3 linked regions of the Homo sapiens genome follow. The protein of the gene in region 3 interacts with the protein of the main gene of each other region in a biochemical or structural test. Each region holds a gene or a part of one and is shown on either strand. Other genes may lie near its edges.

The links.
Region 1: the proteins of NTRK3 (region 3) and SORT1 form a complex in vitro, tested with the Homo sapiens proteins (one study listed by BioGRID and IntAct).
Region 2: the proteins of NTRK3 (region 3) and DOK6 form a complex in vitro, tested with the Homo sapiens proteins (one study listed by BioGRID).

Annotation. Positions count from the first base shown.
Region 1 is NC_000001.11:109,338,904-109,345,928, forward strand, and holds part of SORT1 (sortilin isoform 1 preproprotein), read right to left. Parts: intron 6,979-7,025; coding exon 6,848-6,978; intron 3,256-6,847; coding exon 3,111-3,255; intron 1,977-3,110; coding exon 1,821-1,976; intron 1-1,820.
Region 2 is NC_000018.10:69,403,878-69,410,902, forward strand, and holds part of DOK6 (docking protein 6), read left to right. Parts: intron 1-7,025. UniProt on the Homo sapiens protein: DOK proteins are enzymatically inert adaptor or scaffolding proteins. They provide a docking platform for the assembly of multimolecular signaling complexes. DOK6 promotes Ret-mediated neurite growth. May have a role in brain development and/or maintenance.
Region 3 is NC_000015.10:88,253,729-88,261,495, forward strand, and holds the start of NTRK3 (NT-3 growth factor receptor isoform a precursor), read right to left. Parts: upstream 3,012-7,767; 5' UTR 2,916-3,011; intron 2,759-2,915; 5' UTR 2,556-2,758; exon of another isoform or gene 2,441-2,555; 5' UTR 2,426-2,440; coding exon 2,178-2,425; intron 1-2,177. UniProt on the Homo sapiens protein: Receptor tyrosine kinase involved in nervous system and probably heart development.

The DNA.
Region 1 (7,025 bases), on a different chromosome or scaffold from region 3:
GTCTCACTCTGTTGCCCAGGCTGGAGTGCAGTGGCATGGTCTTGGCTCACTGCAAGCTCAGCCTCCCGGGTTCACGCCATTCTCCTGCCTCAGTCTCCTGAGTAGCTGGGACTACAGGTGTCCACCACCACGCCCAGCTAATTTTTTGTATTTTTAGTAGAGACGGGGTTTCGCCGTGTTAGCCAGGATGGTCTCGATCTCCTGACCTCATGATCCACCTGCCTCAGCCTCCCAAAGTGCTGGGATTACAGGTGTGAGCCACCGCGCCCAGCGACTCTGATACTTTGCATGTGTACTTCCTTCAGCTGAAAATGCCCTTCCCTCCCCATTCCTGCCTATCATACTTAAGGCTCAGTCTTAAATGTTTTTCAAGTGTGTTCACTGTATGGTTTTGAGTGCAAGGCTGTTCAGCCGTTTATTTGTAGGCTCATTTGGCAAGTATTACTGAACATCTACTATGTGCAAAAATTGTCATAAGCACCAGAGGAGCATCAGTGAACACAACTTTAAAAATCACTGCCATCCATAGGACTCAATTAGAAGCTTCCTCAACGAAGATATTCACATGGCCAACGAGCATATAAAAAGTTGTTCAACATCTTTAGTCATTAGAGAAATGCAAATCAAAGCTATAAACGAGATAGTATTTCACTCCCATTAGGAGTGCTGTTACAAAAATAGGAGAATATAATGTGTTTGCAATGAAGTAGAGAAATTGGAATCCTTTTGTATTGCATGTAAAATGGTACAACCATGTGGAAAACCCATTGGTATTTCCTCCAAAAGAGAAACATGGAATTATCATGTGATCCTGCTATTTCACTCCTACATATATCCCCAAAGGAACTGAAAGCATTGACTTAAACAGTTACATGTATAACAATGTTCATGGCAGCATTCAGTATTCATAAGAGCTGAAAATGGAAACAGCCTAAGTGTCCATCAATGGAGGAATAAAAAACAGGCTGGGCATGGTGGCTCACGCCTGGAATCCCAGCACTTTGGGAGGCCAAGGCAGGCAGATCACCTGAGGTCAGGAGCTCGAGACCAACCTGGCCAACATGGTGAAACCCCATCTCTACTAAAAATACAAAAATTAGCTGGGTGTGGTGGCACACACCTGTAAACCCAGCTACTCAGGAGGCTGAGGCAGGAGAATCCCTTGAACTTGGGAGACCAAGGTTGCAGTGAGCTGAGATCACGCCACCGCACTCCAGTCTGGGCAACAGAGCGATTCCATCTCAAAAAAAAAAAAAAAAAAGAAAGAAAAAGAAAAAAAAGGTGCTATATTCAAACAAAGGAATATATTCTAGTCTTAAAAAGCAATAAGTGAAATTCTAAAACATGCTGCAATGTGGCTGAACTTTGAAACAATATGCAAAATGAAAGAAGCCAGACATACAACAACCAATAGTGTATGATTCTGCTTACATGAGCTACCTAGAATAGGCAAATTCATTGAGACATAAAATAGAATGTTGGTTACCAGAGCTGGGTGACTGGGTGGGGAACGAGGAGTGCTTGTGCACCTGGTGCAATTTCTATTTGGGATGATGAAAAAGCTCTGGAAATAGGGGTGATGGTTGTGCAACATTGTGACTGTGCTTAATGCTACTGAATTGTACCCTATACAATGTTAAAAACTGCAAATTTTGTTAGACATATTGCCACAATAAAAAAAAAAAAGGAAACAAAAAAATGTACATGGGTAGGCTTGTTGGCTTGGCAAGCAACATTACTAGGGGACAGGTTCCCCGAAGCCTCAAATCCTACCACATGCAGCTGAAGGCACAGTACACCACTGCGATGCCGAGACTCACCTTCGGAGAGCACGCTTGTTATGTAGACGCCGCGGAGGGAGGTCACGTTGGTAAAGTCCGTCTCTCCGCCTGTGGTAGTGTAGAGATGTCGGTCCAAAGACTTGGAATAGACAATGCCTCGATCATCTGAGGTAAAGATTGTGCCAAACCCAGTGTCTGAAATAGGCAAACAAACAAAAATACTAAGTCTTGGGTGGAACCAAAGAGAAAAACAATAGTCTAACCACACACGATTACCTGCCTGACCAAACACAGTAGCCAATTGTGTCTCTTCATGATGAAGACTCAGACCTGAGAATTAATCAAGGTTTGATACTCAAGATCTTTATGCCCATCTTTAATTCTAGTACCCAGCTTAGTGCCTGGAATATGGCAGATGCTGAGTTTGTTGAATAAATTAATCAGATGCTACAGAAAAACTCTTCCCAGATATATTTTGGTGGGAGAGGCCCTATGTTTAGTTTACATATTTTTAAATCTTTACACTCTAGAACAATGCTTCTCAAACTATCTGTAGTGAAGGATCAATTTGTAAGATTTCCAATATGTCACAAACTGATGCTATTGTAAAACATAATAAAAACTAATCATTAGAAAATGAAAAGGTAAACAAAATATATGCCCCTAAGTTTTTTTTTTTTGAGATGGAGTCTCGCTCTGTTGCCCAGGCTGGAGTGCAGTGGCACGATCTCAGCTCACTGCAAGCTCCACCTCCCGGGTTCATGCCATTCTCCTGCCTCAGCCTCCTGAGTAGCTGGGACTATAGGTGCTCGCCACCACGGCCAGCTAATTTTTTGTATTTTTTGTAGTAGAGATGGGGTTTCACTGTGTTAGCCATGACGGTCTCGATCTCCTGACCTCGTGATCTGCCCGCCTCAGCCTCCCAAAGTGCCAGGATTACAGGTGTGAGCCACTGCGCCCAGCCATAAACCCCTAATTTTTTGTCATTAGATCCAACAGACATAAAATTGCTTTGTCAAAAGGCTAGAAGAGTTTCCAAACTCTTGCTCTCAATTTCTGTACTTATCTGGTAACAGATAGTTTGCAAATCAGTACCAGTCTGCTGACCATTCTTTGAGCAGCTCTGCTCTAGAACACCTGAACATACACACAAGCTACCAAAACAAGTGGCATTTTTAACAGGGGCTACAGATGATCTCTAGGACAGAAAAATCAGTAGGGCACTAATAAATTTCTAGGGGTAAGAGGAAAACTCGACATGTAAAAATAAAAGCTGCTCAAAGCTTACATCTCTATGCTTTTAAGGGTAAGCCACTAAAAAGCTCTTACCTCCAGGTTCATCTACATGCATGAATACCATGTCATCATTTGCTGCCAGAATAGAATAGAACTGTTCCTGTCCCACGGAGGGGAGCTGGGCCATGCTCCATGTGTCCCCTTGATCTGTTGAAACGTGGATCCTTCTTGTTGTATCCTAGAACAGATGTCAATATTTATCTTTCTAATTTTCTGCCAAGATGCCATGGGCAGGGACATGAACAAGAATGTTTTAAATAACTACTATTATCCATTTCTCTACTGGGTACGATTGCTATGAATGAAAGGTCATAGTACCAATTACCAAAGCAATTTCTAGCCCCTAGCAAAGTTCTAGGTAAAGGAACAATCCATTCTATTCTAAGTAAGGCTATCTTGGCTTTCTCTTTGAATTCTTCATTCTGATGCGGCCCTGTAAGATAGTATAGTCTTGGTCTCTGATAGTCCACCTCCTTCAGTAGAGCTAAGGATTTGATGAGAACATTAGGTTGGCTTTATAGCCATTTGCATACACTCAGGTAATTCTTAAAATGATGACTACTGCATAAAAGTTTGGTCCCTTTCATACAGTGCTTGCATAATTTAAAGAATTATATACTTAAGGGTCTAGAAAATAGAGATGAAACCCATGTTTGGGAGATCACAAGGGAAGTCAAGATGTAACACGCCTTCTCTCTAAGGAAGTCTCTCAGAATAGCCAGGATGAAGGGAACAGGCATGGGCTGGAAAGAGGCCAAGGAGAGTCGGAAATTACTATAAGGAAACTGATTAGGGAGTATTTGGCTGACGAAAAGAGTCTGTTAAGAAAGCAATTAAAACTTAACTCTCTGATAAATAGCTTAACATCGCTACTAGATACAGTTAGCCTGAGCATGAGAATTAATGTCGGTGTTTCCTTAGATTAAATACTCTTTAAAGTTCAGTGATAAGTACATTTAACTTATTCAACTTATACCAACATGTCTCATTACTTTGAATCTTATTCTCATTACTGTAGGTAGAAACCAGAGTTCAAAAGTACATCGCAAAATTTTAATTCTGTAGACAGCATTATACCATATATGCAGTATAGCATAGGAAGCTACCTCTGGAATTTGAGTCTGATTTCCAGCAGGATTCCACTACTGGTTGACCCTAGGTAAGTTACTCAATTTCCTCACCTATAAAACTGAGGTAATACTATTAGCTCACAGGGTTATTGGGAGGATATTACAAAATGGCTTTGGAGAGTTATCTGTATTTACTGCCTACTTCTTCATCTCTAGTTCTCACTGAAGTCACTCCAATCGGCCTTTTAACTTCCAATGAAGTGCTTTTGTCAAGGTCACCAACAACCTCCACGTCGCCAACTCCAGTGGATAATTCTCAGAATGCACCTAACTCAATGGTCCTGATTTCCCTCTTCCTCCCGGATCCCTCCCTCTCAGTCTTCTTTGCTGGATTCTTCTCTTTCCAACCTTTCAGTTGTGGGTGCTTCAGGGCTTGCTCAGTCCTCCCACCTCTTTGCTACCTACTTACTCCTCCAGAAGGTATCATCTGGTCACATGGCTTCAAATACCATAGCAATTAGGGAGATTCATATACCCAAATGCTCACTTGACATCTCCATTCAGATATCTAATAGGTGTCTCATATGCAGAACTGAATTCTTTTTTTATTTTTTTTGAGACAGAGTCTCACTCTGTTTCCCAGGCTGGAGTGCAGTGGCATGATCTTGGCTCACTGCAACCTCCGTCTCCACAGTCCAGTTGATTCTTGTGCATCAGCCTCCCGAGTAGCTGGGATTACAGGCCTGCGCCACCACGCTTGGCTAATTTTTTGTATCTTTTAGTAGAGACAGGGTTTCGCCATGTTGGCCAGGCTGCTCTCAAACTCCTGACCTCAAGTGATTTGCTCGTCTTAGCCTCCTAAAGGGCTGGGATTAAGGCGTGAGCCACCATGCTCGGCCCAAAACAGAATTCTTGATTTTTCTCCCACAACCTGCTCCTCCTGCAGTCTTTGCCATCCTAGAAAATGGCACCACCATTCAGGCGCTCAGGATACAGACTCTTAAAGGTACCCTTGATTCCACTCATTCTCTCACAACCCACATCAAATCCATCAGCAAGTCCTATTAGTAATATGTTTAAAAATGTATCCACAGTCTCACCACCTGCCCCCTTACCCACTGCCAAGAGCCTGGCCAAGCTACCACCTCCCCAGCTTGGACTCCTGAGAGAGCTCCCGGCGCTCCCGCTGCTTCTGCGCGTGCCCCTGTCAGGCTGTTCTGCGCACACCTATTCTTCAAAAGAGAAGCCAAATCTCAGCATTCCCCTGCTCACAACCCTCTCACAGCTCCCAACACAAGAAGAGTAAGGCCCACATCCTAATTGTGATCTACAAAGGCCACATAAGGTCTGGCCAGGCCCCCTCTGGCCCCACTTTGGACTATTATTCTCTGTGCTCCCCCCATACTGCCCTTCTCCCCTTTGCTTGGATTGATCGGGCATGCTCCAGTCTGAGGGTCTCTGCACTGGCTGTGCCTCATCCTACTCTCCTCCCAGATGGCCACATGGTCAAGTTCTTGTTTCACTTAGGTCTCAGAGAGCCCATCCTAAACAGTCTGTCTAAAAGAGCACTGACTCCTGACACTTTGTTTTCTTACTGTTTTAGATTTCTTCGCGGCTTTAATTATTACCTGATACACACACACTCACATTTATATTTATTTATGAGACAGGGTCTTGTGCTGTTACCCAGGCTGGAATGCAGTGGCATGATCACAGCTCACTGCAGCCTCAACCTCCCCAGGCTCAGATGATCCTCCCACCTCAGCCTCCCAAGTAGCTGAGACTACAGGCACATGCCACCATGCCTGGCTAATTTTCTTATTTTTTGTAGAGACAGGGTTTTGTCATGTTGCCCAGGCTGGTCTTGAATTCCTGGGCTCAAGGGATCCACCCGCCTCAGCCTCCCAAAGTCCTGAGATTACAAGTGTGAGCCACTACCCCCAGCCTTCATATTTATTTTTTGAGTATTTATTTTCCCCCTTAAACATAAGTTCTGAGAGCAGGAAATTCATCTGTTTTGTTCACTGCCATATTCCTGGGACTTAGAATAGTACCTAGCATATAGTAGGCACTCAATTAATGTTATCTAATTGTATTTTTATTCTTGGATAATGAGCAAGAGATTGCTTTCTACAGATGTCCATTGTCTGAGTAATGCCCAAACACTGGATCAAAATATCCTGGCCGGGCGCGGTGGCTCACGCCTATAATCCCAGCACTTTGGGAGGCTGAGGCGGGGGGATCACCTGAGCTCAGGAGTTCAAGACCAGCCCGGCCAACATGGCAAAACCCCATCTCTACTAAAAATACAAAAATTATCCGGGTGTGGTGGTGCACACCTATAGTCCCACTTACTTGGGAGGTTGAGGCAGGTGAATTGCTTTAATCTGGGAGGCGGAGGGTGCAGTGAGCCGAGATTGCGTCACTGCACTCCAGCCTAGGCAACAGAGAGAGACTTTGTTTCAAAAAAAAAAAAAATCCCAAAAAAGATAACAGAATTCACATGGTGACAGAAGGCCAAAGTGCAGAGTAGCCTATCAGTCAATCAGCCTTTGCAAAAAGAATCACCCCTAACACTCACAGTGGTACTAAATATAACAAAAAGACAAGAAACTCTGTCAATGCCAAGTAATAAAGAGAATCTATACGAGAGATATTTGCAGAAATATCAGACCCCAAAGGGGAGAGGGCAATACCTACCTTATCAGCCATCACAGAGGCAAAAAGGAAACGTCCCCCAAGACCAAATGAGTAGATTTTCACACCAATAGTTTTGAAGCTTTTTCCCAAGTCTGAAGTTCTCCATAATTCCAGAGCCCCAAGGTCAGCTTCTTAAACAAGACAAAATATTAATTAAAATTTCACTTACTGGTGAGCC
Region 2 (7,025 bases), on a different chromosome or scaffold from region 3:
TACATATTCCTAATTTTATGGACTCAAAACTATGAACTTTTCCAAATAACATATTTTTTAACTCCAAGGACACGATGAGTTTTTGTGATTTATGTCCAAAACTAAATTTCAAAATATAAATAATTATAATTGAACATGCATAGATATTTGATTTATTATGGACAGTACTCATGCTTTCAAAAATCAAAGTCTGTGATATTCTAATGGAGAAAAAAAGGCCTGGATATGAGGCCGATTGCATCAGAGATAATTATTGACATGAAACATAATTTATGATGAAATGTTCTAATGTGCCCTTTGCTCTTCACAGATAAGTGCAATTTTGAATGAGGGCAGTAAGGCATTTCTTGTCCTCTAGGTAGCAAGTCAGCCCTTTCAGAGGGGCTTCCAGGTTTAAGAGGTCAAAAAGGCCCTTGCCCTGTGTCTCACTGGGGAAGCTAGCAACCTGTTGAGTACAGTCCCTTACCCACTGCTTGGGAAAGAAGTAAAATTTAGTAAGCAAGGCATATATAGCAAAATATCCAGTCAGTTTTTGGTTTGCAGCCAAACTAAGAACTCAATCACTGAAAGCATTAATAATCTAACACTTTGTGTATTGACCCTAAATTTATCAGAAATAGATGCAGCTTTGTGGAGTGATCATCATCATCATCACCATCATCACAGTCATTGTCATCAATATCACTGTACAAATTTTAGACTGCTATACCTTGACTTATTCTAGACACAGACCTCACATCATTTTTTTTCAAGGAATTCATTCAAATACATCAACATGACTATTCACAGACACATTGTATGCAGACAAAATAGTGTCTTCTACAGACATTTTACATTTCTTACTCAAACTCAGGTGAGAGATTGGTGTTGATATGTGTGGGTTCTGAAGGAGTGTCTCAGGATAGGGTGGTGTGTGTGTGTGTGTGTGTGTGTGTGTATTCAGGTACACACTCAAGTAATCAAATTATCTTGGAGTGCCCACAGTTTAAGAGGCAGTGTACACTGGTGTTTGTGTGTGTATTACAGAGTCATATTGTGTTAAGCCTGAATTAGTTATAATAAAGAACCCCTGCATCATTGCTACTGAGAGTACATCGGGCCAGTCATTGTCACTTTGCACCAACTTCGCTGTAGGGGAAGCAGGGAAATGTGGAGGGACAGATTGCGAGTTTTGAAGAGCACTAACTTTATGAGCTGAGCACCTATTGAGAATTTTGCTTTTTCATATTTTTGTTTTAACATCTTATTGTGGATTCACCTACCTCTTGCCCTTTCTCCCTTCTTGATTAAAACCTTAAGACACCTCCATTCCTGGCTTAAGGATAATTGATCTCCTTTCTGTAAACACTGTGAGTTTTCCTTTCCTCTCTCAACAGCTTTCCTCGGAGTATTTGTTCATGAGAGATATTTATGAAAATTCACCCTTTTATAGAAGCTCAATGATTAAAATAAATAGAAATAGCTGGACACGGTGGCTCACGCCTGTAATCCTAGCATTTTGGGAGGCTGAGGCAACATGGTGAAACCCCATCTCTACTAAAAATTACAGAAAGTCAGCGGGGTCTGGTGATGTGTGCCTATAGTCCCAGCTACTCAGGAGGCTGAGGTGCGAGAATTGCTTGAACTCGGAAGGTGGAAGTTGCTGTGAGCTGAGATCATGCCTCTGCACTCTAGCCTGGGTGACAAAGCGAAACTCTGTCTCAAAATAACTAACTAAATAAAATAAAATAAAATAAAATAAAATAAAATAAATAGAAATGTGCATATGTGCATTTGTATATTTTGTCCTTTAGACCATTTTACAATTTCTTTCATCTCCAAGTCTGTAAAAACTAGTTTGTAAAGAGAGATTATATCTTGCATGGCATGCATTACCAATTTCCCAAGAATTAGATGCAATAAATATATTTAAGATAAAACATATAAATAACTTAGTCATTCTGACTATTTAAAAATTCTAAAGGAATTTCAGGATCATTACTTTGTATATGAATTTCCAATATATGGATTTATGGTGCAGAAGTTATAATGAGTGTGTTTCAGTCTTTACTTGTCTAGAATATTGTGAATCCTGGACATTGTTTTCTGAAATGGATCTGTGGTATCTATGTTTATTTATCATTTGTATATTTATCATTTCTCATTAAATACTAATTTAGCAGATGACAATTTCAATTATTTGAACTCTATTTGATTCTAGATTTTTATTCATGGTGACAATTATGCATATTCCTTACGCTGTGTGTAGATTTGCCACTTACTTCTGTATCTATACATATTCCTGCAAATAATGCTAGTTCTTAGAATTTTCCAGTAAGCAAAGATCTTATATATCTTCTACCCAATCCCTATATTTTGCATTATCTTCAACTGCATGTTCGTGTGTATGACATCTGATGTATGCTTAGAAACTCTATCTCTATTGGCAATTTTTTTCCTTTTAAAAACATCCCTCTGTCTGCATATGAACATGTCCAAAGTTCTTTGAATTTCAAAAATTAAGCCAAAGACAATGAAAATTAAGGTAATTTTTACAGTAAAAACCAAATACAGACATTGTGGCTGGATTTTGCTATTAAATTATTATGCCTATGTAAGACCTGGGAGAGGTGGGTAAATCAGAGAGAGTTATCAAGATTCACATCTCAGTTTTTATCTTGATAGATTTACAGATGACTGCTGGCAAGGTGAACTTTAAAAATGGCATTCCTTTTCTTAGAAAACAAAGATAATACTCAGTACTTAAAGAGATCTTTCAAATGACTGAAATTAATAGATAGTGAGCAGGGAAGTGCTACAGTGGTCAAATATCTTTCTACGATCTACATTCCCAGTTTCCTTAAATGTCTTTCAAACACGCACAGTAATGGTGAATATTTTGGATCAGTATAAAATAGAATACGGAATAAAAAATTAGTTTAGGCTGGGTGCGGTGGCTCACACCTGTAATCTCAACATTTTGGGAGGCCGAGGCTGGCGGATCACCTGAGGTCAGGAGTTTGAGAGCAGCCTGGCCAACATTGTGAAACCTCGTCTCTACTAAAAATACAAAAATTAGCGGGGTGCAGAGGCCAGCGCCTGTAATTCCAGCTACTCAGGAGGCTGAGGCAGGAGAATCGCTTGAACTCGAGAGGTGGAGGTTGCAGTGCACTGAGATCGTGCCACTGCACTCCAGTCTGGGCAACAAGAGCGAAACTCCATCTAAAAAAAAATAGTTTACTATGAAGCATATATATTTGACATAAATGTCATCTTTTCAAAGTATTTTTATTAGTTAGCATTGCCCTCTTTGGATCATAAACCATGTAGAAACTGTTGAGTAGGACAATTAAGTATTTGTATCTTTGGACTGTTTCTATTTACATCAATTTTAGAAACTGTAGAAGATAAAAGGTATGCAATACAAACAAAATTGAAATTATCTGTAGTCCCACCATTTAAAGATAATCTCTAGATTCACATATTTTGAAATGCAGTGCTGGTTTTGAGGAAGACATAATTTCTATTAAATAAGATAAAATAATTAAAAGGGAGCATACTATGATTTCTTTAGCCTCGGTTTTATTACTTGTGCCTCACTTTAGTCACAGTATTTTCTGTTTTTCTTCAAGGTCTTGTAACTTTGTCCACAGAGTCCACAAATTCTAGATAGGGAACATTTTCATTAACTTTCTGCATAAATCCTCTTTAGATTTATTTTAAGATACAGAGCAGTATTATCCTCTAAGTAATTCATTTTTATATTGTTACACTATTACTCAATGAGAATATTGCACCTGTCAGTCAAAGTGGATAGAATAAGTAATGATATTTTGCTATAAGCAAGAGCAGAAATTAATAAAGAAAACTATTGTTTACATGGTACTTGCAATGATTAGTGATGGTTGTAACCTTTCAACATGTGCAAAATATTTTGTCTGCCATTTTCCTGAATTATTTGCAATAATTCTTGGTTAATTTTTATTTTTGGCTTAACAGTAAAATTACTGGGAACAAAGACATATTAATGCTTAGTTTGAGACTTCATAATGGTAACATAATCTCACTACATTTTGTACATATTGTGCATCTCACAACTTGTAAAGACTTATCACACATATTATATAAGTCTTATGGTAGGATTTCAAACATATATTCAATTTTTAACCCCCATTCTGTACATAAACTAGAATCCAAAAGAAGTAAGGCAAATCAGCTGGAGTTATTGAGACACAGCTTGGGTTTGTGTGTTTGTGTCTACAAACCTAGGTTTATAACTTCAAGTTCAGTGTAATAGCTGTTATAGAACAGCCACCACTTTGGAGTATATATAGACAAGTTCAACACAGTCATGTGTACCCTTCAAAGTCAAGATGCTTTCTTTGGTATCTTGGTTTAAAGCTGATACAATCATTCACTGTACTCAATGCTAAGTTATTTAGATTGCAGACAAAAATGCTACTTAGTGAAATAATTTATGTCACAATAAGGAAGTACTATGCAGATACTTGTCCAGGCCACACTGAATTGACACAATTTCATTTTCATTGATGCCAAACACAAATTCACTAACCTCTCCTTTCAAAAAAAAAAAAAAATAGAGCACCTTTCAAAATTTACATGACAGTGTCTGGGTAGAATTTTACAAGTTATTTAAATAGTTAAATATCTTTAGTTTAGCATTACCTTTATTTATGGAAGATGATATTTTATTTAACCTGGCTTTATAAAAGATTATGTTTAAATCAACTTAGTGAAAGGTGAGTTCATTTAAAGAAAACCTAAATACAAAAACTGTACAGATTAATGGGGATCTGACAAATCAAAAGGCAGTATGTGTTGACATAGTCATGCCTCACATAGTATGACAGTGTTAGCTAAATGCCCAGGCATTGACAGTACTCAACCACAGCACGATCTTAACTCAAGAGACTGGATTATTTTGTTTGTTTCTTATTTTTGTTGCTTGCTGCTTTAAAGGGGGCTTAAATCAAAATAGATGTATTTAAATTATGTTCCTTTATTAAAAAACTATTAATTTTTTAAGTTGCCTATATGCCACTCTCTTATTCAAATGTGTACATTTATACATAAAATGTATTACACGTTGATGTGGTTTGGCTGTGTCCCCACCGAAATCTCATTTGAATTGTAGCTCCCATAATCCCCACGTGTCATGGGAGGGACCCGGTGGGAGGTAACTGAATCATGGGAGTGGTTTCTCCCATGCTGTTCTCGAGATAGTGAGTTCTCACAAAATCTGATGATTTTATAAGGGGCTTCCCCCTTCACTGGGTACTCATTCTGTCTCCTGCCGCCCTGTGAAGAGGTGCCTTCCACCATGATTGTAAGTTCCCTGAGGCCTCCCTAGCCATGCAGAACTGTGAGTCAATTAAACCTCTTTCCTTTATAAATTACCCAGTCTCTGGTATGTTCTTACAGCAGCGTGAGAATGGACTAATACACATGTAGAAACGTGTGTAGTAATTTTTTCCTAACGATTTTTCCATTGTAAATATGGAATTGCTTTTTTCTGATTACTCACTACCCTTTGGCATGTTTATGTGTGTATGTATATGTGTGTACACACATATATACATATATAATGTGCTATATATTGAATATGTATGTATTTCCAAATGGCACATTACTACCCATACACATGGAATTGCTATCTTTGCTGAGTGGATAGCAGAATGCACTCCCCACCTCTGCACCAGAAGAAGATGTTCATAAAATGCTTTTGTAGAATACAAGGAAAGTTTTTAATTCTATAAACCATTTTATGTCTACATTGGTCTTTACTTGGAAAAATAGATGCAATATTTGTCTAAAATTGGAAAGTTAGTATTTTTTCCCCAAAACTATAAAAACTATAACTTTAACACCATGGCAACCAGTAAATTTTATATTTATTTTTGTTTACATAATTCTAGTAAATTTTCTCACATGCTATGCAAAAATAAGAGTAAAATTATACTTTTCACATATGTCTCCTTGCTTTGAAAAATATTCCTTTTTGTTTAAACTTACTAGCAAATAGGAATACATTTTCCAGAGTGTTTTAAAGACCGTAGGGTAGTTCTGTAGAAAGCATCCATGTCATTTTACTCTTGCTTTCATAGACTTCACCACATATTTGGAATCCTTAAGTTTTAGCTATATAAGTCTCCTAAACCAAAGTACACCTAGTACCAAGTCATGATACTGAATTTACCTAGAAGCTACCAATTTTATGTATAAGTATGAAATATACTATTCTAGACATTTAAAACTGGACAATTATTTAGCACTGTGAAGTCCACTCAACACATTCCGTTGTTTTCTGATATTTTGAATAATTATCTATATTACCTATCCCTTTATTAAAAAACAATCACTGTCAACCACGACTGCATATAGGAGTGACCTGCAGAACTTGATCCTTCCGCCTGGGCGTTCCTCACTGAATTGGCCTGCCTGGAGTTGAGTGTAGGTTTGCTTTAGAGTTCCCTCAAGTGCTTTTAATGTGACACCAGAGTTGATAATTGTTGCCATCAAATGATACTTTTTTAGGAAACAGAGAAAATATGTAACATGCTAGACTCCTCTAAACTGCGAATTACACTGTTGTTAGTGCGAAGACCTCTGAAATATAAAGTTAATTATCCATTAAATCCTTTATGTAACACTAATTTCCTGACAGTCCATAATGCTTTATAATGTGAACACAGAAGGAATACAACAAAAAATTTCTTCGATGTACAGAAATTGACTTCATAAACAATGTAACGAACGTGAGTAAATCCTTTCTGAGGACTTTCCAGGCTCTCTTGATACATGACTGATGCTTCTACCAGCAATGTGGATGCTCTTGAAAGATTTCAATTGTCTAATTTGTGTATTCTCATCTAAGTAATTAAGATACCACGGCTATTTAAATTGTACTTAATTTAAGACTCACTGAGTTCTGAACAATGCAATCATGATTTTCCCAATGGGAGATTCAGTGCATGAGGCTATATTTTTAAAAAACCAGTAGCTCAGAGTCAGTTTTGTATTCTTCA
Region 3 (7,767 bases):
AGAATCCAAGTCCTGAAACAAGAATGGGGACACACACAGAGGGGCTCCAGATCCACTCCCTGCTCACTATCCTCCCAGACGCCCTCCTGAGGCCCTCCAGTACCAAAGAGGGCAAGAGGCCACCCCAGTCCCCTCCCATCACAGACCTTTCTGGCAGCCTAGAAAGGCTAACCCAACTCTGCCCTATGAAACTGCTTCCCTGAGCATCATTTTCAGAGGAGCAACACCTCTGTGTGGCTATAAAGAGCCTACGTGATTGTGACCATCCCTGCCTCCCACTGGCTTTCTACAGACAGACACATCCTTGGAGCAGCACACTGGATGCAGCTCACCCATTCCCAGAGACCCAGGCTGGGTACCAGGGGCCCCTTCTTCCAACCCTTGGCCCACCCCTGGCAATCTCTAGGTCAGGCTTCTGAGCACCAAGACTGGCTGCTCAGCTCCCACCTTCACCAGCACCCTACTACCCACATCCACCCCCTACACACATACACATACAGCCCCAGCAATGCACTTCCAAGTCTGAGTTTCCCTAACAGTCTCACTCTGAACCCTTCTCCCTGCATCCTTGGGAATGCTGGAAGCCTGTGGCCTGCAGTGGGGGAGAGGCACAGTTGGGTCTGTCCTGTTCCTCCTGCCCTCCCTGCTGACCCCCGCCCCTTGGCTGTTTATCTTGTCATCTCTGGCCGGGTTGAAGAGGGTAAGGGGGTGAACAGCAGAGCTGAGATATGGGTCAAGCTTGTCTCCTGGGCCAGGAGTCAGAGACATCTCCTGGGCTATCCATTTCCCTCAAACTGTCAGCTGCGAGAGCGCAAGCAGAAGCTCCATTAAGCCGAGAGGGCTGGTGGGCTTTCCAAAGAGCAGGACTGCAATTCCTCCAGGCTTTGCAGCCCCATGGCCCTGGGCTGAAGCAAGGGGAGGTGCTCCCAGAGCAGCACCAAAGGCAGGTCCGGCCCCCTTAAGTCCGTCGAAGGGGTAAAGAGCCACCCAAAATGCCTTCCTCCAGACCTTGGCCAGGACCTCAGCACAAACCCTTCTCAGCTGCCTACCCATTGCTGAGGGTCCCCAAGGGCTGGAAGCCTTGGGGGAAAAGAGGTGAGAATTATCCTCTGAGCAATTCCAGTATGGTCCACACCCTTCTCCAGGGTGGTAGGTTAGGAAGGGGTCACCTGGCCGAGGTCAACGAAAGAAAAGAGGAGCAGACTCTCCAGTCCCCAGCCCTCGATCTGTCCTCTCCTTTGCGTCTGCTGCCATCCCCACCAAAGAAAAATAGCAAGGAGAAAAGAGCAGGCCACCACTGGTCTCCCTCGGAGGGGGCAGAACCAAGCAAAAGCCAGCCAGAGTTGAATGTTCCAAATGAACCGATCCGCACGATCACACAAGAAACCCCTCTCCTCAAAACACACGCCCTCTCCTCTCCCTGCGCCATCCTGACTCGGAATAGTTCCGAGCAGTTATCAAAGCCCAAACTGGGAAGGGATCTGTAGGCGCCCAGATGCAGATGAGGGTGGCAAAGGGGTGTCTCGGAAATGCCCAAAATGGGGCTGGAGAGGGCGGGCTGCAGGAGGGGAAGGGAAGAGGTAGGCGTCCATGACGGCCTCCACACGTCCAAAGTCTCCCCGCGAGCAGCCAGCTCGCAACTTGTTTACTTGTCAGCATGTTTTGCTGTTTCCAAATGGAAATAGTTAAACACCTCGGCTGGATCGCGAGCAGTCCCTATCTGTCACCTTCCCTGCCGGCTAAGCGCTGCCGCCGCTGCCACCGCCGCTGCCGCCTCTGCCAAAGAATCGAACCTCGTCTACTTTATTCCACTTGAGCGTGGCCAAACTGTTGCTATTTAGTGGGGAGCAAAAAAAAACAATTTGCACCATCGAAACGAGCCAGCAACTGGTTGGGAGGCGGGCGGTAGCTGGGCCCCGCGTGCCCTCGGCGGCCGGGGTCCTCTCCGGGGAGAGGCACACACACGCATAGCCGGATCGCGCCTCGCCAGGGCCGGAGTCACCTGGAATGCGCAGCCGGAGAGCATCTCCCGAGCCAGAGCGAGCCTGACGCGCGCCCAGCGGGCGGCGGGCAGCGGCGAGCTGGGGCGGGCGGAGGGCCGGCTCCCGGCCGCGGGTGGGCAGGAGGGAGACGCAGAGCGCGGGGGAGGCAGGCTGGGGAGCGGCCGCCTGACTTACATGGAAGTGATATTCCTTGAGATGTCCGTGATGTTGATACTGGCGTTCCCATTGCTGTTCCCTGAATCCTGCCCTTCCAGGAGGGGGAAGAGGTTCCCATCGTCCGGCCGCCGGCAATTGATCTCAGTCTTGCTGCAGACACAATTTGCAGGGCAAGCCAGCACGGAGCCCACATAGTCCAGCCAGACGCTTCCCAGCAAGAAAATCCGCCAGAAACTACACTTGGCTGGGCAAAGAGAGACATCCATCTCCGATCGCTGCTTCTAAAAAAGAGGAGGAGGAGAGGAGAGGGGGGTGGGGTGGGGGGAGTGGGGAGAGCAGGGGGGGAAGGAAACAAAGACGGCGAGGGAGGGGGGAAGGGGGAGGGGGGGCCTCTGCCTTTGAAACGCCGAGCGATCAGATGCAAAATCCTTCAGCGTCTGAAACCATCGCGGACGCCGCCGCCGCCGCCGCCGCCGCCGGGTGGGAGCCGCGAGGAGCGCCTAGTGGCGCGGTCTGCCGGGCATGGTGGCCGGCTCGGCGATCGCTGACTCGCCGGGTCCGGGGGCTCTGGAAGCGAGGCGCGCTCTCCGACTCCGAGACTTTGCAGGGTTGCAACAGACGGTGGGGAGGCAAAAAAAAAAAAGGAAAAGGAAAAAATGGTGCTAAAGTCACCAAGTCCCACCTACTGGGCAGAATTAAAACGGACACACCACGCACCTGCAAAACACACACACTCACTCTCACACATACACACACCCGGAGCCCGAGGAAAGGAAGAGAAGGAAGATGCAGTAGGAGCTGCAGCAGCCGCCGCGAATGGCTCGCCGCGCGGCTGCAGAAATGTACAAGTGCTCCGAGCCTTACGAAACGCACGGGTTATCGGAGCGTCTTCCTCGGCTCCCTCCCTCCCTTCCTCCCTCCCTCCTCCCCTCCCTCGTCGCGGCCTCCTCCCCCCGCCCCCCGCCCGGGCTGGGAGCGGCAGGAGAGCGGAATCTCCCCCTCCCTCCCCTCCCCACACCCGTCTCTCTCCCCGCCTGTCCTCTCCCTCCTCCCCACCCACCCACCCACCCACTCGCCGGCTCGCGGCTGTAGCCGGCACCGCCACCCGCAGCCTCGCGGCAGCCCGCCCGCTCCACGCCTCGCAGCGCGGCGCCCGCTAGCCGCAGCCCGGGGGAAACCGAGACCGAAGGGAAAAAGTTGCATTTGAGATTGCGAGGGTCGGGGCTGGGGAGGGAGAGTTGGCGAGCTGGCTGCACGACACGGAAAGGCGCTCTCCTTTCCACTTTTTGGCCCTCGCGCTACCCGGTTTTGCTGCAATCCGGACCGCGGTAGGAAGTGAAATGAACGTGGCGGAGGTGATTGGGGAGTGCTCCCAAGCCTTGGGTGGGGGGCGCTCCCAAGCCTGGGTGGGTGGGGGGCGCAGGCTCACGGACGGCGACGGGGGGTGCCGGAGCGCACAGACACCCCAGAGAAGCACCCAGAGCCGGGGACCGGGACCGCAGACGCGCAGTCCTTGGTCTGAATGACACTCATTTCCGTAATCTAGAGTCTGGGGCTCTGGTCTTGGCTGGGAGGGGACTGCGGGACATGGCACGCTAGGTGCCCCCCGTGCCCGCTGCGCTTTCTTGGAGGTGGGTTTTGCATTCGGCCTTGAGCAGGCATGGATCGGGGAAGGAAGAAACAGGGGTCGAAAGGGCTGCGCTGGAGAGCCGAGGTGGCCCCGGGCGAGCTGTGCGTGCAAGAGAAATGGCCGGGGGAAATTGAGATGCAAGGGGCATATTTTGGCAAGCGCCACGCCAGCACCGTCAGAGGCCGGCTTCTCGGGCTCAGCTCTCGGGTGAGCTGAGCTGGCTGCCGGGTGAGGGGGCGGGCGGGCTGCTTTCTCCGGATTCGGGGGCGCAGAACCTCCTCCTTCCCTCCCACACAAGCACCCCTTCCTGGTAGGGACGCAAAGCAGGTGCAGCTTTCGACGAGAGCTCAGATCTCATCCGGGAAAGAAGTGTGTGTGGGGGGGGCCCCGCTTTTGCGCTGGTAGGGATTTTTTTCTTAATAAAACATAAAGATGCCAAGTGTGAGCTGTTTGCTGAAAAAAAAAAAAACGAGCATTCGCTGTGGGAAAGGAGAAGAAAGGGTTAGGGGAGTCCGAGCAGGCAGACACACTACAGCATTCACACGCAGAAGAAAGCAGGGTTCTCCTTCCCGAGCTTGGAGGAGGGCAGGCGAGGAAGCAAAATACATTGAATTCAATTCAACTGCATCCAGTATCTGAAAGGAGTCTCCCCCGCCCCCCTGTGGATTCCGATGCAGGTCATGCAACTTGCAGGCAAGATGGGGGAAGGGGTATGCCGGTGTCACCGCCTGCCCCAGGCGCAACCACAAACAGGCCGGTCGCCTTCGGGTGGCACTGTCGCTTGGAGTAAAAACTTGGACGAAAAAAATGGAAGAAAAGAACATGCCTATACAAGGCAGTTTTCCCGACTTCCCGTCACGTTCCACCTTCCCTTGGCCCCAGGGAGATTTTTACCCCCGTCGCCATTATGGCCTTGTCTCCAGACTGGCATTTTGCCCTCCCACCAGCAGGCGGGGACAGAGTGTGAAGACCTCCTTGGACTCTCAAACCACTTGCTACTGGCCCTAGGCCAATCCTGGCTGTCCTTAGGCCACTGGGAATTTCCCTGTCACTTCAAGTGCCATTCTGGGATTGGCTTTAGAATATCTGAGAGTCAGGAAACTGAGGTGTAGTCAGATCCTAACACTTGGCCTCTCTTGGGAGGTGGCAGGTGGCAGCAGAGAAACACAGCCTCTCTCAGACCACTCCTGGGCAGGGAACGCCAAGTGGATTCAGCCCAGCATCAGTGCTCCAGCCTGGAACTGAAATGGTTGTGTCCAAAAGATGCCCAGCCCACTTTTTTGAGAGAGAGAGAGAGAGAGAAAGAAAGAGAGAGAGAGAGGATTTTTAACATGTCAAGCAGAGAAGAAGAGACATCCATAAGTTAGAACAACAAAAACAACAACAACAAAAAACCTTTAAAAACCCCTCTGGATTTGGTAAAAATGCAGATTGTGGAGCAAGGGGCCCTGATGGGCAAGAAGTCTTTCATCCTGACAGTAAAATGGGATTAAGATGGGGTGCTACGTTTATGCTCACACTCTGGGCCTGAGCAGGAAGCGACAGCTGAAAAAGAGGGAAGCCCTTTCAAAAGCAGGTGACGCATGGACACATAGAGGGGACAATGCACATGAGGGTCTACCAGAGGGTAGAAGGTGGGAGGAGGGAGAGGATCAGGAAAAATAACTCATGGATACCAGGCTTAATACCTGGGTGATGAAATAATCTGTACGACAAACCCCATGACACATGTCTACCTGTATAACAAAGCTGCACATCCTACACACGTACCCCTGAACTTAAAGGTTTAAAAAAAAAAAGCAGGTGATAGACTAGAGTGGGGAAGAGCAGAATTTCATTTCTAACCACAGGGAAATGACAAGCTTTCTGGGACTCCGCTTTCCCATCTGTAAAATGACCACGTTAAGACCAGATCCTCAAAACCCAAAGTGTGGCCCTCTGTCCAGTAGCATCCATATCACCTGGAAGCTTGCAAGAAGTGCAGCATCTGAGGCCCCATCACAGACCTCCCAAACCAGAATGTCCATCAGAACAAGCTCCCAGGTGATTCATAAGCACATCGCAGCCCCATAGTCATCCCTCCCAGCTTGAAGATTCTCTGATTCTACATGGATCTGGGCCAAAGGGACTGTTGAGGGAGAAAAAAAAAAAAAAGGTGGGGAATGATGGGGATGGGTCCTCATAATGTTATTCAGTTACAGTGAAGTTAGGGTGAAATAAACTGGGTATCTCAGAGGCAGGGGCCTTGTCAGAAAAAGACATTTGAAGTTTCATTCTAAGCTTAAGAAGATGAGAATGACCTGCTCATGCACTGCTCACAGAAATCATAGTGCAGGGTCAATAATAGTGCACACTCAGAGTTTGCTAGTTCTTAACCTCTGCAGTAGGCCAAATTTAAATGTGGGAGCAGAAGAAAGTCTCCAGCGTAGACACCCTCCCCTCAGTAAGAGTCCAGAGCATTTACAGTGTCTCACCTCTTGATAAGAATGTCCTGGTTGAAAAGGAAAAATGCCTGTCGCTTCATGGAGTCCTGGAGATATCATGACCAAGCTCAGCATCCAGCCAACCAGGGGTCACCCCCCAACCTCCTCATCTCCTTTGCTACCAGCTGGAGTCTTAGAAAGGAGGAAACTCACCCGTGTGCCCCTTGCTGATCAATAAGAGGCAGGAATAGGCAAAGTTTTTTGTTTTGTTTTGTTTTTTGAACAGAAAGTAAAGCTTTAGAAACCCTTTACAGGCGAGCAGACACCTTCCAGTACCAAGGGTTTGGAGAAGACAGAAATGTTCCCAAGATTCGAATGCAATCTTTCACCAGACAGGTCAGAGTGGGGACCACTTGCTGGAGCACAGTGGCCCAACTCCCCTGACACCTAGAGAAATTGAACACGTGTCTTTCTTAAAAGGCATGTTCCAGGCGTGCAAGCACCTGAGATTAATATCAACTGTTTATGGGAGATTTCCAGCAGCCCACATTCCCCTCCACCTAGCAAGGGAGAAAGGGAGTGGAAACTCAGAGCAGAGCCCTGCCAGTCTATTGGTCACCTGTCTGCCTTTCTAACCCAGCCACATCCCTTTTTCCAAAGGACCCATACTCCTGAGTCAGTGGCCACATTACCGGGATGTAGGCCACACACCAGGCAGGTCCATGGATTCACCCACCATGCCCTGCTCCTATGGTGTCATTCTGAATCCAAGAGCTGTGCTTCACAACTTTCAAGTTTGAGCAGAAATAGGATCTACTTCTGCAAGTCTCAGCTGGTCAAGAAACTGTGATACTGGGAGGTGACTGGGGAGCACAGCGGGCTACAAAGGGAATACTAGGTCCTGAAGGACTTGCTGTTCTAAAAGAGCTATCTGGAGCTGGCAGATCTGGGCTTGGGCTAGAGGAGGAGTTCTGTTTCTTGGGTGGCCCAAGCATAAGTTACAAGGGAAAGAGACAGGTCTGGGCCTGGTTGGAGGCTGGGGATGTATAATGCTATCCAGAAGCTCTGGGTCCAAGGAAAGAATTTTGACCATACATGGAAGATGAAAGCCCACCCACAAAAGGGGACAGTCAAGCACCAAAGTGGTCCAGGAAAGCAGAAGAATTCAACCATGGAAGAGCCAGCTCAGGGCTCCCACTCAAGTCCCAATATCTTGGACAAACACCTGCCAGGAGGTTGGGACTACCTGCTGGTGGTGTCCTGCTTGAACACCTTCAGTGGCAGGAAGCTCATTACCAGCCACTCCAGAGCCTTCGACTCTGTTCTCAGACAGCTCCATTCCTTGGGTATCCTTGACTTTGACATAGCGAAGCCAGCACCCTAAAGCTGCCACCCTCGTGCTAGTGCTGCCACCTAGACCCTCAGGGAAAAGTCTCACCTCTTTTCTGCAAGCCACCCAGGAGGCTACTCACTGCCCCTCTCTTCTCTGAGCAAAGCCTCAGTTCCTTCCCTATACTCCAAAAGCACAGCTTTCTGATCTTTCCCCACTACAGCT